Linked DNA regions of Homo sapiens: region 2 is linked to region 1. The links come from fine-mapping of genetic effects on gene expression. Tissue or cell type: fibroblasts. Region 1 holds a variant in brackets; the other region holds the start of a gene. All regions are shown on one strand. Distances are between the middles of the regions.

Region 1 (8,268 bases):
CTTGCCTTAGCTACCATTACCAAAAACCCAGCTCCTTCACCTGTTCCTAACTAACTTTTACTTTGTTCTCATCCTTCTTGGCTCTCGGGTCCTGTGTTGCAATGGGTGGAAACAGCCAAGTTTCATCTCAGGCTGTAGAACCCAACCCTGATCTTTTCTCTAAACAAGCAGGAACCCTAGGAGCTAGACAGAGGCTGGGATGCTGTATCTTAGAAACCGGAGATGCTGGGGCTCCAGGAATCTTGCAGAGGGATGTAGTGCATGGAGGTGAGGGAGGGATCCAAGGGAAAAATGGAAGTTAAATTCATGGGCAACATTCCAGAGATTCATCATCAAAGCAGAGGACCTAGGCAAGGAGACTCTAGGATCATGATCCAGGGAAAACAGCACAGAGAAGGGAAGGGTTTGTAGCAGAGTTCAGGTGGTGAAGCCTGGAGAAATTCTCTAAGGTGCAGATAATACCTGCAGCTGTGGCTTACTATAAGCCTATGACCTGAGGCTGGGTGAGGTCACCCTGTAGCCTCCCTGGACCTAGCTGTTTACCTGCAGAGCTCAAGGAATTTGTGTGGTTATCCTTTTGCCACCTCAGCTTCAAATAAAAGGTTTGGCAAAGGTTTGGCTTTGGGGAGCCTAAAGCAGGATTTTGGAGATTAGCCAAAGAGACTACAGAGATTCCTTTCTTTTTTTTTTTTTTTTTTTTTTTTTTTTTGAGATAGAGTCTTGCTCTGTCACCCAGGATAGAGTGCAGTGGCATGATCTTGGCTCACTACAACCTTCGGCTCCCGGGATCAAGTGATTCTCATGCCTCAGCCTCCTGAGTAGCTGAGATTATAGGCATGTGCCACCACACCCAGCCTTTTTTCTTTTTTTTTCTTTTTTTTCTTTTTTTTGAGACGGATCCTCGCTCTGTCGCTGAGGCTGGAGTGCAATGGCGTGATCTTGGCTCATTGCAACCTCTGCCTCCTGGGTTCAAGCAATTCTCCTGCCTCAGCCTCCCAAGTAGCTGAGACTACAAGTGTCTGCCACCATGCCTGACTAATTTTTTGGTATTTTTTAGTGGAGATGGGGGTTTCACCATGTTAGCCAGGCTGGTCTTGAACTCCTGACCTCAGGTGATCTGGCCACTTCGGCCTCCCAAAATGTTGGAATTAAGACATGAGCCACAGCACCCGGCCCCTATTTTTGTATTCTTAAAAGAGACCAGGTTTCCCCATGTTGGCCAGGCTAGTCTTGGCCAACTCCTGACCTCAAGTATCTGCCCACCTCAGCCTCCCAAAGTGCTGGGATTACAGTCATGAGACGCCATGCCTGGCTGGGATACTGAATTTTGAATCAGAAAATCCAGACTTTACAATAGTCAAAACCATATCTTATTTGTCTTTCTGCTCCATTACCCAGGATTTTACTTAGAACATCAGTAGACACCTGAAAACATTGGTCAAATAGAAGTGAATAAATGATTAAAGAACAAATTAACAAGTAAATGAAGCCCGACATAAATAAAGGCCCTGCTAATCCACCAGCTACACTCGTGTGACAAAGGCCCCAGAGATACCCATGCTCTATATCCATGGAATTGTGCCATGGGGCTGGCTTACTGGGGATTCTATTTACCTGTGGTCTTGACGGGCCTCCCTGGAGAAACAGTAACCTGACATCTGGAGAGTACATTTGGCTCTGTGAACTAGGTCAGATCTGCAGACTTGTGGTTTACCCACTTAGACCCATGCCACACACAGCAGGCCCCTGATGAGAGCCCTGGCATCCTTGCCTTGTGCTTCTTCACCATCCCCTCCCAGATCTCACCTGGCCTCTTTGGTCCCAACTGTGTGTGTGCCTCCTCTCCTCTCTCTAGCTTCTTGCTCTTCTCTATGCCCTTTGCCTGACCCTGCCTCTCTGGTTCTGACCTTGGCTCCCCTCCTGTTTTGCAGTGAGCATTTACCCTTCAGATCATATCTGCAGCTGCCACTCTGGGCAAACTCCCTCTCCCTCAAACTTGGCCTCCATGTCCATTGGCCATAGGCTGATTTTCCCACTGTGCTTGGTCAGGCTTCATGGGTGGAATTCAGACACCAGGACTGGGCATCCTGGTCAAAACCAGGGGCAAACGCTCTCACCTGCATTCTTGGGCGGGAGGCAGGGGTCCCAGGCGGCCAAGAAACTCACCCCATAACTGAACAGAGGTGGCATGCCCACACTCCGTCCCTGGACAAGGGAAGCTCAAATTCAAATAGTATACAACATTGTGCTTCTCACATAGTAAAACCAGTCTTTCAGAAATGTGTCCTGAATTCCTAAGGGGAGGAAGGGAGAAAGATCCTCCAGAAAATAAAAAAAAAAATTCCAATAAAACGAAGTTGGTCCACTGGCAATATAGTACAAAACAAAGATCTTGGTAAGAAAACATCTCCCTGATTTTGGGGTTCCCATGAAAATAACACAGGTCCCCATGAAAATAACGTAGATGAAGCAGCAGAGAACTGACAAAGGCTGTGGAAACATGGAAAGAGTAATGATAACGCAGAAATCAGAGGTGAAGTAAAAGCACAAGTGAACCTTCACAAAGCTGGGCTAAGTGATATTAACGTAGCTGCTATTAACCAGAAATTCCCAGTCAAGTCAACCAGGCTTGGCAGTGGTGGCCACCAGAGGGCGCTAGAGTAGAGTCCGTGGGAGAACTTCAGCGGTGGCCCTGCAGGTTTGAGAGGCACCTTCCCGGAGGATGGATTTGAAGGGCTGAGGGTCCAGCAGTTCTGTGGGTTGGCGGCTCACAGGAGAAAGCATGAAGACATACTTCCATCCTCACACCCCCGAAGGTCCTTGCCTGGACTGGAAGCTAAAGAAGCGCATGCTACATTGTTTTCCTAGTGACAAAAATCCCAGCTGGCCTCTGGTTAACTTTTCAAACAAATGGCACTGATGTGATATTGGGCGAACTCTAGGTGTCACTGACCTAATAAAAAGAAAAAAGCTATTTGCTTCCCATTTTCCGATGCAGTGAGGATTTCACAGTGATCTCAAACACAGTGAAATACATAAAAAGAGCCTAGCTTAATGGGGGCACCCAGCAAATGCCCAATAAACATCTGTTCCCTTTCCTCAATAAACCCCATTTGCCTCTCAGCCTGCAGCCTCCCACACTGGTGGACCCACGTGCCCCTCAGAAGTGAAGCTTTTGGCCCCTGTAAAGCAGCAGCCCCTCTGGCCAGAGAGTCTTTTGTCCCAGAGCCTTTGTTGTTCCAGATTTCTCACTGTGAGGCCTCAGCAGCTGCCAGGGGGCCACCCCAGGAGCTGGAATCAGAGCTCAGAAAGACAGCAGTCCTTCTTCTGCTCCTTTCTGGGCCCGCATGCCCCAGCCCCACACCCAGCCTCAACCACACTGCCCTGCACACCCTCACCGTGCCCCCACTTCTCCACAATGTGTTTCTAATCTGCCCAGGAACAGTCACCAGCTCACTTTTCCTGCCTGGTCTCATTAGCGTGGCCTCTGGGCCTGGGCCTGGGTGTGTAGCCCAGAGGCTTGCACGGAGGTGATCAGATTGCAGGGAACAGTATGTTTCCCTCCCTGCCTCTGCTTGTTTTCTTCAGGGGCCAGGGCCAGCCAGCTGAGCTGTCTTCCTCTTCCCCGGCTTCTCATCCTCCCTCACACATGGTCTGACTTCAGTGGGTGGGGGGATGAGCAGAGGGTGTGACACACACGAGTGTGCATGACTGGCATG[T/C]AGGGAGTGTGAGTTGTGGGCAGGTTTCTTAAGGGGAGGCAAGGCTGCTACTACTCCGGGAAACAGGCCTGGGAGCCAGGGGGAGTGGAGGAGGAAGGCCAAGCTGGGGATTTGTACAGACCAGTTCTGGCCAGATCTCTTAAAATGTTTTGTTCTTGCATTGCTGCTGCTGCTGCTGTTGGTTTTTTTCCCCCCTTCCCTGTGCTGAGCTGTCATTTCTTAGTCCAGCCAGGCCCTTATGAACTTCTGGTTCCTCTAAACGGTAAACACCCTGGTTTTCCAGACTACACCATAGCTCTCTTTTCTTATTTGCCTTCAAAATACACTTTAAAAAAAAAAAAAAGAAAGTAGAAAATGGCAATATCAGTGATAAGGGCAGGGCATGCACTGAAAAAGAACAGTTCAATCTAACATTTATCGAGCCTGCCACCTTCCTCAGCTTTATTCTCTCCTTTCTTGTTCTTGGTAACAGCAGATAAGAAATCAGCTGTGGGTCAATACGTGAAAAATGTTCACTCTTTTAGAGTAGTATTAAAATAAATATTTTCAATGACAACATTAAGCAGTTAATAATTAAAGCATGTGCATATGTATACTTAAAAGGGGCTGGAGTCCCTTCTGTCCAAATCAAATTTTCCACAAGCGTTGGTAACAAGGTGGCTGGGAATGTTGAGATGTGAGACTGGCCTTCCAAGGATCAGGAGGGCAGCTGGTGGTGGGTCTGCTCTCTCTCATCACTCTCAGTGGCGACATCACCGTCCATCCTCCCCAGTACTAAGATCTGCTTCAGGAAAGAGCCTGAAACCAGCCACATGTATCTCATGTTGGTGAAGGAAAATCACAGTAGTGGTCCTCAGTGGGACTCTAAAATGACTTCACATCAGCCTCATTTGGTAAATGAGGAAACTGAGGCTCCAAGAGGTGATGTGTGTCACCCAAGTTTCCATAGCAGAGCTAGAAAAAGACCTTGTTCCTGGGGTCCTGGGAGAGGGTCCTACTGCCCAGCTCTGACGGATGAAAGGAAGGCTTTTTTCCATGGTACCAGCTGTTGCTATGGGCAACCCTAGAGATCACTCTGTGGGGTGTGGGATCCTTCGGGAGAGCTTGTGCTTCCATTTGGAGAGACTTCACAAAGAGGGTGTGCCATGGGGACTAACATAAAAAATCAAGAGTGGGGAGACAGAAAGAGGAAGGTCAGCAGAACTGTCCAGATTTCTACAATGCCCGCCCTTCTTAGGCAAGCTAAGCCATCTACGTGTTGGGGGCATGGTTGCTGGCCCTCCGGAAACCCCTCGGATCTGAAGAGCAGACAAGAGCATCTGTCATCTCACAGAGATGCCTTGGGATTTGAATACTTGTTTTGTCTTTGGCCTGGAGTTTTACTCTTAGAGCTCCTTGCCCAGATATTCCATGGTAACCCACTGTCATATTCTGCATAGTCCTCTGAGATAAATATGGAGAAATTATGGAATGCAGGGGAAAGAATTCTGAACTTCAAATGAGAAGAGCTGGGTTTGTGTCTGGCTTCACTCCTTACTTGTGTCTAATCAAAAGCAAATCAAAATTGAAAGTAAGAGCTAAATTTTTGTTAAGGTAGGATTTTAAGGCAATTGTTAAGTCAAAGATGTATCTTAAGCACCACATTCAAAACCACGTATTCTCGTACATCACTCTTACTGTATTTTCTAGACTCTAAGAAGCCATTGACTAAGACACAGCAGCGAGTTAATAACAGCTTTTAGGGGGAAAGGAGAAGAAAAATGTTTCTCTGTTAAACATACACATCAATTGTAAGACACAGGATCTCTGAAATGTCAGGTGTGAAGATCAAGCTTCTTGGAATGAAAGAAACAGTGGTATTGTTAACATTTTGAAGGAAGACTGGCTCAGGGAAGGGCAAAAGACATTTTTGAACACACGGCTACTTATCGGGTTAGTAGAATGTTCCCCAAATTCTCCTTTGTAATACCTACATCCTCTTTGGCTGTTCCCCTCCTGGTCCTCAGTCTTTTGTTTACCTGTCATTGAAACTTTCCACCAGTTTGGCCAATGGCCATTGTGTCAACTGCAGCTCAGACTTGTCCAGGCAAACACCGGCTCACTGACCAGGTGCTCACCAAGCCTCAGGGTACACATACCAGCCCCGCGGTACCATACCCTCAGGGTACACAACCACACCCACAGACACCTGGTAATACTGCTTCATACTACATTAATTTTCCTGTAAGCAAACTTTCTGACTTAAATCATTTTGTTTCAGAAGTAAAAGTGATAATTTCACTTTACATGCAAAACCTATATCACTTCTGTAGATACAAAGTAAGCATAAAAATAGTAAAATGGGCCAAGCACAATGGCTCACACCTGTAATCCCAGCACTTTGGGAGGTCGAGGCAGGCAGATCACTTGAGGTCAGGAGTTCGAGACCAGCCTGGCCAACATGGTGAAACCCCGTCTCTACTAAAAATACAAAAATTAGACGAGCATGGTGGCGCATGCCTGTAATCCTAGCAACTCAGGAGGCTGAGGCAGGAGAATCACTTGAACCCAGGAGGCAGTGGTTGCAGTGAGCTGGGATCATGCCACTGCACTCCAGCCTAGGTGACAGAGCCAGACCCTGTCTCAAAAAAAAAAAAAAAAGTAAAATGGAAACATAGAAACTTAAAAAAAAAAAAACTATGTTGATTCTAATACCTTGTGTGTAGAATAAATCCAATCAATTTATGAAAATAATTTCCTCACTGAGAAAAATGAAACTGTAATCTTTCCATAAGAAAGGAATATTCAACCCCACGTACTAAGTTTAAGAGAACAGCGAGGAGCTATGTCTGTTAGGGCCAGTTACACGTAGGAGCCACAGTACCAGCTGCCTGCAGAGTAGCTGTGTGACCACAGGTCAGTTTCTCAACATCTGTGCGCCTTAGTTCCTTGTTTGTCAAACAGAAATGAAAATAACACCAATTTGGGGGTTATTTCTGATGACTAAATGAGTTAATGCATGCAAAGCACTTATGACAGTGCCTGGTATTTAGTAAGGTCTCAATACATGTTAGCTATAATGATAATCAGTAGTCAGGGTATTACAATTAGTAGTATTCATGACTTAAAATTCCTACTCACTGGAGTTGGAGTCAGAAAGATTTTTAAGACATTAACTGTTTTCTCTCATAAGACTGGTTACTCAGGGTTAGTTTCTAACCAAAATGATGAAAGTAGCTGTTGCCCAACAACTGCTCCTTAAAGAAGCCATCTCCAGGATGGAGTGTCAGAATATGTCCAGTTAAATCTGGTCATGTTTGGAAAGTGATGGAAAGTGGGTTCCTAATCTACTCCCTGCCACATTCCAGTTTAGAAAAATACTTATATATTTTTTTCATTTTCCAAGGATCACTATGTTCAAAACAATTTTGAACTAGTTATTCAGACGACTTCATTACCATGTGCTTCAGATAATGACAATAGTTTTTGATAAAATTTGAGTCTGGTTGAACGCTTGCTTGACTAGAAGACACATGTGTGGGTCCTTGGTGTACTGTCTGGGCCAGTGACCCCTTGCTGAGCATGAACTATATGCTATGCAGGGTTAAATTATTTAATTCTCATAGTAACCCAATGATTTAGGTACTCTTTCCCCTTTTTACGGCTGAGGAAAACCGAGGCACAGAGTGGTCAAGTGACTTAAGATTACAGTGTTAATCATGGGTTTGAGACAGAATTCAGAGGCCTTCCTCGGTGCCAGAACCCTGTTCTCCAAACTCCTCGGCCTCGTGGGAGTGACAGTGTAATCTGAGGCCACAGCCCTGCCTTAGCTTTTCCCATGGGCCCTGGCCTCAGAGAAAGGCACCAGGGTGGGATGTTCTGCCCCTATAGATTTCTGCTGGCCCAGCCCTACCTGGAAACCCAGATGATGAGCAAAGAAGCCCCTTGCATGGGTGTGAGTAACAGCATGTGGGGGGTCTCCAATGGCCCCAGGCAAGAGGAGGACACCGTGGTTCCCTACCCGATTCCCATCCTTCCTTCCTCCTACTTCCTTCTCCTATTACTGTTAAACCCTACCCCTCAGTGGCAGGCACCAACTTTCCTACCTCCTTTCCTCTACCAGCAAACTTATCAGGTTAGGCCGGTAGACTATGTTTGATAAAAACTGAATTGGCACATAGTAGGTCTCTAAGGTGTATGTGAGCAAATGATAAATATAATTGGAATTTTCTTTGACTGTATACTCCTTCCTTATGGGCAAGAACTCTGATTTCTCTGTTTCATTAGAGCTTATTATAGTGCCCAGCACATACTAGATGCTCAAGGAGTATCAGTTACTGAATGTCTGGTGCAAAGGAGCTGGGAAAAAATCTAAAGGAGAAGGGATGAGTTTGGGTTTTATTTTTAGTGCCAATGTTCAAAAATATTTTTTAAAAATGTTCTACCAAACCCAAAATATTTCATTGAACACCTGGGACATCTCAGCTCTGGGAAGATCTTCCTATTACATCTCACTGCCTCCCTATTCCTGCTTCACTCTGGAAGTCCTCAGGTTATTAGGGAAAGCTCT
Region 2 (8,000 bases), 250 kb after region 1:
ATAACACCAGCTTGTTAGGGTCCTTACGGAAGGGGTCCCGAAACATGGCAGCAGGCACGAGATACATGTCACTGTTGGAACCCTCAGACTGTAAAGTACTAGAGCCATCGAAATTCCACTCAGGCAACTCTGGGGCAAAAAGAGGGAAAATTACATTTAAAACATACAGGAGCTTTCCAAGCAATGCAAATACAGCCAGCCCTTCACTCACCTTCCCATCTCTAAATATCTCTTTTCCAGGAATTCATTAAGGTATAAATGCCATCATTAATATGTATACCCTGGCACCTGTACCTGATCTTATAGCCCTTCCTATTTGAGTTCCAAGTAAGACCATTGTACCAATTCCTTAAAAGAAATATATCAGATACTCCCTTCCCAAATGTCTTCCAGGAGACAAGCTGAAGCATTCTGTTATCACTACCATCCTATCAATCACTTAAAATATTGAGATAGTGAAGGATTCTGATTCTTCCATTAGGTAATGTGTTGCATCCTTCTTATGCCCCCAGTGTATTCTGGCAAGTTATGTCCTTATTTTATAGATGAGGGAACAGACGACTAGCAGGATGACTTACTCTAGGATGCTCCCTTATCACCTATCCACCTTTCCCACTGTTTTGAAGGCTGCTTGGTCTCTCTAGCTGACTGAGTTCTCTGAAGGCAGAGACGAGACTCTCACTTTGTATCTTCAGTGTCTGTGCACTATCATCTGCCACATAGCAAGTACACAATATAGGCTTTGTATTATGATCATTCACTTACTCAAAAAGGAAAAGTAAACTACCCTAAACTAGGTAGGATATGATACTTTCCTCTGGCCCCTTTCCAGAAGAGGGAAGACTATGGCTTGTTCTAGACTGAAAAATGAAGGTCACAACTATAATCTAACTGTAGCTCCTAGAGGGATACGCAATTAGTTTAAGAATTTCCAAAAGTGGCATCAACTAAAAATTAGTCCTATTTAAAAACCATTGTAGAGCATTTGCTTCACATCTAGAAGCCAGTGATATGAGTATTAAACACAGTTTTCTAAGAGTTTGTAAACTAGATGGCATTCTCAGGTTAGAGCAGTGGTTTTCTGAGGGTGCCTTAGAGCCAGCTAAGTGGGGATGTCCAGGTCGGCAACCTCTAAGCCCCATGCCAACTCTCCATAAACCAGACTTAGTTTTTCTTCAATACACTGGCCTACGTGCACAATTCCATTGAAATAAAGGGTTCCATCGTCGCTCTGCTTTGAGGCAGTGTAGGAGCTTAATGTTGACTGAATAAAGTCTGAAAAGCCCTGCCTTAGAAAACCTTTACAAACAGAAGAAAGAGGCCTAATCCAGAGGCTGAGTCAAAGGCTGCTGCCCACCCCTCTGCAGATCCCACCCAGCATGTGCTCCACTCCACATTGCTGTCTCACCTTCCACACACTTGGGCTCACTGTCCAGGGTCCGGGTCTTGCAGCGCAGTCCTTCTCCAGTACCATCGATCCAGATATACATGGCCTGGACTTTCTCACCCTGAGGCAGGGACATGTACACCTGCTTGATGCCTTTATTTAAGTGGGAACTTGCTGAGGTGGTCATGGTGGAAGGTGTTCTGGAGAAGAAAAAAAGAATAACATTGTTAACGCCCACTCCAAACTGATCCCCTGCAAAAATGGCTCAAGAAGGACGACTGAATCAAAAGTCAGAGTGTAAGTGCCAACTCCTTCCCTTGTGGAAGTCAACACACAAAAAGTTATGTTTACTCACTCTTTCAGGGGGATTAGTTTTATAGTAGGCAAAAATCTCCTTTATAATAGGCTGTAAAACTGATCACCACCTTTTGAAACAATTAACACAGATGCCTGCTAAAGAAAAGATCAGGCCCTTGGTAGTAACTCAATGCCTCTGCATCCCTGAGCTCACAGGCTTAAGTTCCACAGCTACTGCAGAACCCAGGCTTCCAAGCTAGAACTTATACTTGTGAGGACTAAGGTCTATTCCTTCAGTGTAGCTGAGGTTAACACTAAACTATCCAAATACTAAACTATCAGAGGAAACAAATCAAAACCAATACACAAATTTACAAAACATAGAACTTCTTCCAATATAAGTAAAATCCAGCCACAGAACAGGCTTGGCTTCCACAGTTTGTTTTTCTCTTTGTCTTTCATCCTAGCTGTGGTCTTAACTCAAACCCACCGCCCCTCCCCACCAAAAGAAAACTCATTACACATTTAGATTTGAGGATGAAACAAGGTTACAATATATTTTTTTAGAAGGCTAGCAGTTTCCTACACAAAAGCTGATTCAAGCCAGATTCTAAGGGGAATGCTGCCATAATTTCCATAGGTCTCATGCAAAGTCTCACTTAAGATAGTGGGCAAGAATCACAACATTATGGAATTCTACAAGACTTGTCAAGTAATTAGGAAATTTCCACTTCTAAATCAAAAAGATCTGGAAATTTAAAAGCCATGAGGCATACTAATAACTGCCAGCCACTACCACAAAACCTCCGAAAGAAGAGAAACTCTCAAGCCACAACAGCCGAAGAGGAAACATTCTCTCTCTCCCTCCTCCCTCCGTGGACCAGGGTGGCTAGAAAGGGAACACATTGTTCTCCTCCAACGACTAGGGCAACGTTCTGAAGTACAGTGGCAAAGTTTCTACGGGCAACCGTCCATGTTTGCCCAGCTGAAAACATAACTGCTTCTCCCTCAGCCTCACCACCCTTCCCCTTGGGGAAGACCAACACCCCAATATTGCCTCTAGAAGACTCAGCCGGCCAAATCCTACTTCCCACCTCCATCCCAGAACCCTTTAGCTCCCGCTAAAAGCTACAACCCACCGAAGCGGGCAGATCACCTGAGGTACAAAGTTCGAGACCAGCCTGGCCAACACGATGAAACTCCCGTCTCTACTAAAAATACAAAAATTAGCCGGGCGTGGTTGTGCACGCCTGTAATCCCAGCTACTCGGGAGGCTGACACAGGAGAATCGCCTGAACCCCAGAGGCAGAGGTTGCAGTGAGCCGGGAGATTGCACCACTGCACTCCAACCTGGGTAACAGATAGAGACTCTGTCGGAAAACAAAAAAAAAAAACCTACAACCCAATTTCTCGGCTGTCCTCTCCAACATGTTACACCACCAATATCATGCACACTTTGTCCTAAGCCTCAGTTTCGGATCTCTTGCTCTTTTCCGTGAGCCGAGTTGCATGCCAGCAGCCTAGTGCCACTCTATCAACTGCTGCTGCTGCGGTGCCAAGTTTACGTGGGGGAAATGGATTCTGAAGTTTTCAGCAGTTTCTGCAGCTCCCACCAACTCCGGGGTCGTCCTCCCTGCCCCCTCACTCACCCCAGCCACAGAAAGTCAAGCGTATCGTTAGGGTTGCCCTCTTTAACCCTTCTCTTTTTGGAGTGGCGTTCGCGCCTCTCCTCTTTCTCAGACTCTAGCTGGTCCAAGCACCGGAGCTTTCTGGGAGAGGGCGATGGAGAAGGGGACAGACAGCGGCCGGCCCGGGGGGTGTCCGAACAGGCAGGTTGGTGGGTTAAGGTCTTAATCTTGACTCGAGATCTCTCCCCGGAGTTCACAGAGTAGGCGACGAAGCCGAAGCAGCTGGAGCGCGACCCGGAGGAGTCTGACTTCTCGTTGTCTTCATAATTTTCATTCGTTGCTTTCTTCGTGGACTTGCGGCTGGGGGAGGATCCCCGCTTCCCGCCCCCGAGGGAGTTATAATTATCCACTTTGAGAGCAGCCCCTTCCCACTGAAATGTCCCTAAAGTGGGCGCCCTGCCCCTCGGGCCCCCGTCCGAATCTCAGGGCCTCACGGAGGTGGCCATACCCTGCCGCCGAGGGGTTGGGGGGTCCGGGGGAGGGTGGGGGCGCAGGCCGTAGGGACTGCGCGCTGCTGCTGCCTCCGCCCGGACCGGCTTCTCCACTGACTGCGCCGAGGCCCGGGCTCTCCATTGTTCGGTCACATTGGAAGGCCCCCGGGACCCCGAGGCGGGAGCCGGCCGCCCAAACAACGCTCACCGTTACACGCCGCAATCGAGGCGTCTCAACCATCGCCAGAACCAGGACGATTGCTCCGAAGGCCCCACCACGAGGAAGGCAGCCAGGCGCCCGCGCCAACCAAGCGCCTTGTTTGCGCTCCACAGGGGACCGCACCGCCACTCCATCCACAGCGCAAACAAACCACTGCGAGCCCCAGGGCGCAGGCCGGCCCAACGGCCTCCAGGGGCGGCGCTTCGGCCGCAAGTAGTGAAAAGAAGATCAAAACAACTCACCCCGCCCTTCCCAGAGCCTGGCCAAGGGCGCGCCCCACCAGCGCCAGCCCCGACGGGTCCAAGCCACCAGCGGCGGAAGCACGCGGGAGGAGCACTCATGCCGGATCTCAGGCATGGGCCGGAGAGGCCGCAGCGTAGGGCTGGGACTGGAGGGGCAGGCAGCCGAAAAAAGAGGCTGGGCGGCGCGCCTCGCGGGGTAGCAGGGGCGGCGCGCCTCGCTTGCGTGACACCGGGCCGTCCGGGGGCTTACCTGGTCGCCGAGCAGGCGGGCGGGTAAAGCTAGGCCGCGAGAGCGAGGTTAGGAGAGGAGAGGAGGCCGCAGTACTGCTCACACGCTCCGCTCTTCTCCCACTCTCGACTCTGCAGAGCCGCCAGCAGCCCCGCACCCTTTATCCGCGGCCCGGGGCCGCCCCCGGTGCCCTGATTGGCTCCCAGCGGCCAGGAGCCCGGGCCGATCAGCTGATGCGGTCCCGGGCCCCGCGGCCATTGGGCGAGGAGCCCGGCGGGCGCCGCTGGGGTGGGGGCAAGCGAACTGGGAAAGAAAGAAAGAAAGAGAAAGGGGCGTGGGGGAGGGGCAGGGCGGCGTGGGGGAAGGGAGCGGAGCCGGGAGGGCTGAGGGCAGAGGGGCGAGTTGCCGCCAGGCCGGGAAGCCTCGGCTCGCCGCCCACCCGCCAGCTCGCCAGGTGCCGCCCCACGGCCCCCAACCCGGGGTCCCGAGGCTCCCAGCAAAGCCCGCCCTGGACCTCTGCCCTGCCGCCTTCACGGGGAATAGTTTTACGAGGAGAGCTCCCTGGGGAAATGCGGAACCAGGGAAACCGAATTTAGCCTTTTGTTGCGAGGGAGCCTCCGAGCCCCGCTTCCTGCGGGCAGGGGTTAGCTTGAGAGGGAGCGCGGGGCGCGGGACCCGAGGGAACTTTGGGCGGGCCTGGGCTAGGGCGGGTGCCGCGCGGGCCTGGGGACAGGCCGGGGTTCCCAAGGCCTGGAAGAGCCGCCCGCTCCGGCTCTCTTGGGTCTGGGGAAATAAACAGAACTCTGCCATTTCACATTTGAAATCAACGTGCTGTTTCTCTAATTTTACAGAGAGGATTCTGGAGGGCGGTAGAAACTAAGTCTGGAGACCTGTCTCATACTGCTGGCCAGACCCTAGGCAGGTCTTTCAGGGCCCAAGTTTCCTCATCTGCAAAATAAAGTGGTCATCGAAAATGACCTGTGGAGCCGCCCACTAGATTTGAAATTCTGTGTGCAAACTGCCCCCGGAGCAGCTGAAAGGAAATCGAGGTGTTCACTTGCCCCCTTTGAAGTCCAGGGATTGTCAAGAAATTCCTTTAACGAATTCTCCCTGATTTTGCTTTATCAAGTGCGGCTTCTTGTTAATCTGGAAAATGGGAATACATACCTCTCCTCTCAGCTTGCCGTGATGGTTGGGAAAATGTGTATGTGAACACAATATTGAAATGTACCTAGAGACACAACATAGGTAGGTAGGTAGGTAGGTAGGTAGATACTGCTATCCGTACTATTACTCGATCATTCTATTTTTAGTGCCTGAAATCTACCTGATGGTGTCCAGATTTTATTGCTTCTTTCAGTTTAAAGAGCAAGAATTTATGCTTCCAGTGCCTTTGGAAGAGGAAGGGAAGAAGTTTGTTCTGGTTATGTTTTGTACCGCAAATGTGGAAAAGAAATGTTGCCTGCAACCACACACACATAACTTGGCTTCTTTGGTCAACATCCCTTTCCTTTAAGAGTGTATAACACTGTAGTGCTTTTACATGACAGATGCAGCATTCATCTCAAACAGGGTTTTTTGGGATGTTTCAGACTGGTGACATTTTGGATTGGGTAAGGTGCCTTACAAATTCCTTGTTAAATTTCAGTGCTGCCCCTTGAAGCATTACATTGTGGTGGCTAAAGGCACGGCTGCAAGTCAGGTAAACCTAGGTTCAAATCTGGGCTTTCCCTTCATACCAGCTTTGTGTTGGCCAAATCACTTAGCCACATGAAGCCTGTTTCTTTGTCTATAATAAAAGAGGGATAATCATTTTTACCTCATAAAAGGATTAATTGTGATAGCACATGCAGAAGAGATTGAGTAGTCCTTGGTGCATCGTAAATGTTTAGAAAACAGCAATTATAATTATCATAGGCCAAGTTCTATAATCTGAGGTGATTGGATTCTTTCTTTCCCCATAGCGACTTTTGAATACAACTTTTCTGACTCAGTGTAATGCTTTACCATTCATTATATCAAACTGGACTTAACCTTGGTAACACAGTGAGCTGTCTTCATCTCTTTCTGTAAAGGTTTGAGTTTAAATGGTCGAGGAAGGGGAGCAAAGGAGGAGAAAAGTGATATTTTTATTTTAAAAGATGTTATTAATCATTTCCAGATACCAAACTACCGAACCATAAGCCAGAGCCTCTGCTGCACACACCACCAGCCCCTGAGGTGGGGATGACAAACATAACAGAGAACGGAATGGTAAGGCGTGAGTGCGGTTCTGCAGGCTTATGGTATTTCTGCCATTTGAGTGCCTGCTTCCCTTCCTAGATGTCTTGACCTCATTGAGCAGTTTATTCATTGTCATATCCCCCAGTAGTGTCCACGGTGAGTGTTCAATAAATGATATTTGTTAACCACACAGAAGTGACAGCAGCACCATCAAGAGAACATGTGCTTTGAGCTGCTTTTCCAAGAATGGAAATGGATTTGCTTTGATCCATTCATGTGACCAGGGGCACGCTTTGTAAGGGTTAGGAACATAATACATGACCACTGACTCTTTCAGGAGTGAACAAGAGGCCTTGTCCTCCTTGGCCAGCCCCACATTTACTTAAAATGATGAAATTAGGGCGCAGATGAGTCCAAGAACTGACCAGGGAGGCTTGAGCATAGGCGAGAAGTAAAAGCAGAAGAAAACCCTTAACTGGTTCACCCGCAGAAACCCAGACTGTACTTTTAGAGAAGTTAAAAGTAAAACAGCCTGTTTCATCCAGTTTGACTTTGCTGTGTCTGCTGCCCTTTCTTCTCCTTCCCCTTCTTCCCTAAATTGCCACCCGCCCCCATTCTTCACCCCCACCATAAAAAGAGCATTAGAATGCTTGAACCCATGAACTTTTCTGTTTCTTGGTACACACCATATCAGTGCTGACAAGGGGTTCCATTGCATGTGCTTTGAAGTCATATTTTTCTCTCTTAGAGTAGAATTGCCATGTCCAAGGGGTGGGTGGAGTGGGAGAGCAATTACAGGGAAAGATTTTGTTCCAAATCTGCAGAAATAGCCTGAGATTAAAAGTATTTCTTCAATGTTGTTCTGCTGCCTGAAATAAAAGCTTTGTATTAGGATTTTGCTCTACTCCCAAATCTTATCTCTATTAGGAAACAACTTTTCTCTTTTTTTTTTTTTTTTTTTTTTTTTTTTTTGAGACGGAGTCTTACTCTGTTGCTCAGGCTGGATGCAGTGGCGCAATCTCGGCTCACTGCAACCTCCACTCACTGTAACCTCTGCCTCCCGGGTTCAAGCAATTCTCCTGCCTCAGCCTCCCAAGGAGCTGGGATTACAGGCGTGTGCCACCACACCCAGCTAATTTTTTGGTATTTTTAGTAGAGACGAGGTTTCACCATATTGGCCAGACTTGTCTTGAACTCCTGACCTTGTGATCCGCCTGCCTCGGCCTCCCAAAGTGCTGCGATTACAGGCGTGAGCCACTGTGCCCGGCCCTTTCTCTGTCTTT

Evidence for each region. PIP is the estimated chance that this variant, and not a neighbour inherited with it, causes the effect.
Region 2: it holds the start of GLUL, and the variant in region 1 is fine-mapped to the expression of GLUL in fibroblasts (GTEx, PIP above 0.99). The same link has a PIP of 0.9 or more in whole blood.

What each region holds. Positions count from the first base shown.
Region 1 is chr1:182,140,703-182,148,970 of GRCh38, forward strand. No RefSeq gene overlaps it. Among named protein-coding and RNA genes, the nearest start is that of ZNF648, 83 kb to the left of the region's middle. RefSeq lists a silencer at 2,672-2,848 and enhancers at 2,857-3,525, 3,526-4,193. The variant T/C (reference allele first, on the strand shown) is at 3,720.
Region 2 is chr1:182,387,164-182,395,163 of GRCh38, forward strand. GLUL (glutamate-ammonia ligase) reads right to left here and starts at 4,627. Exons shown (of 7, transcript NM_001033044.4): 1 at 4,516-4,627; 2 at 1,409-1,587; 3 at 1-129. The coding sequence starts at 1,574. RefSeq lists a silencer at 4,363-5,042.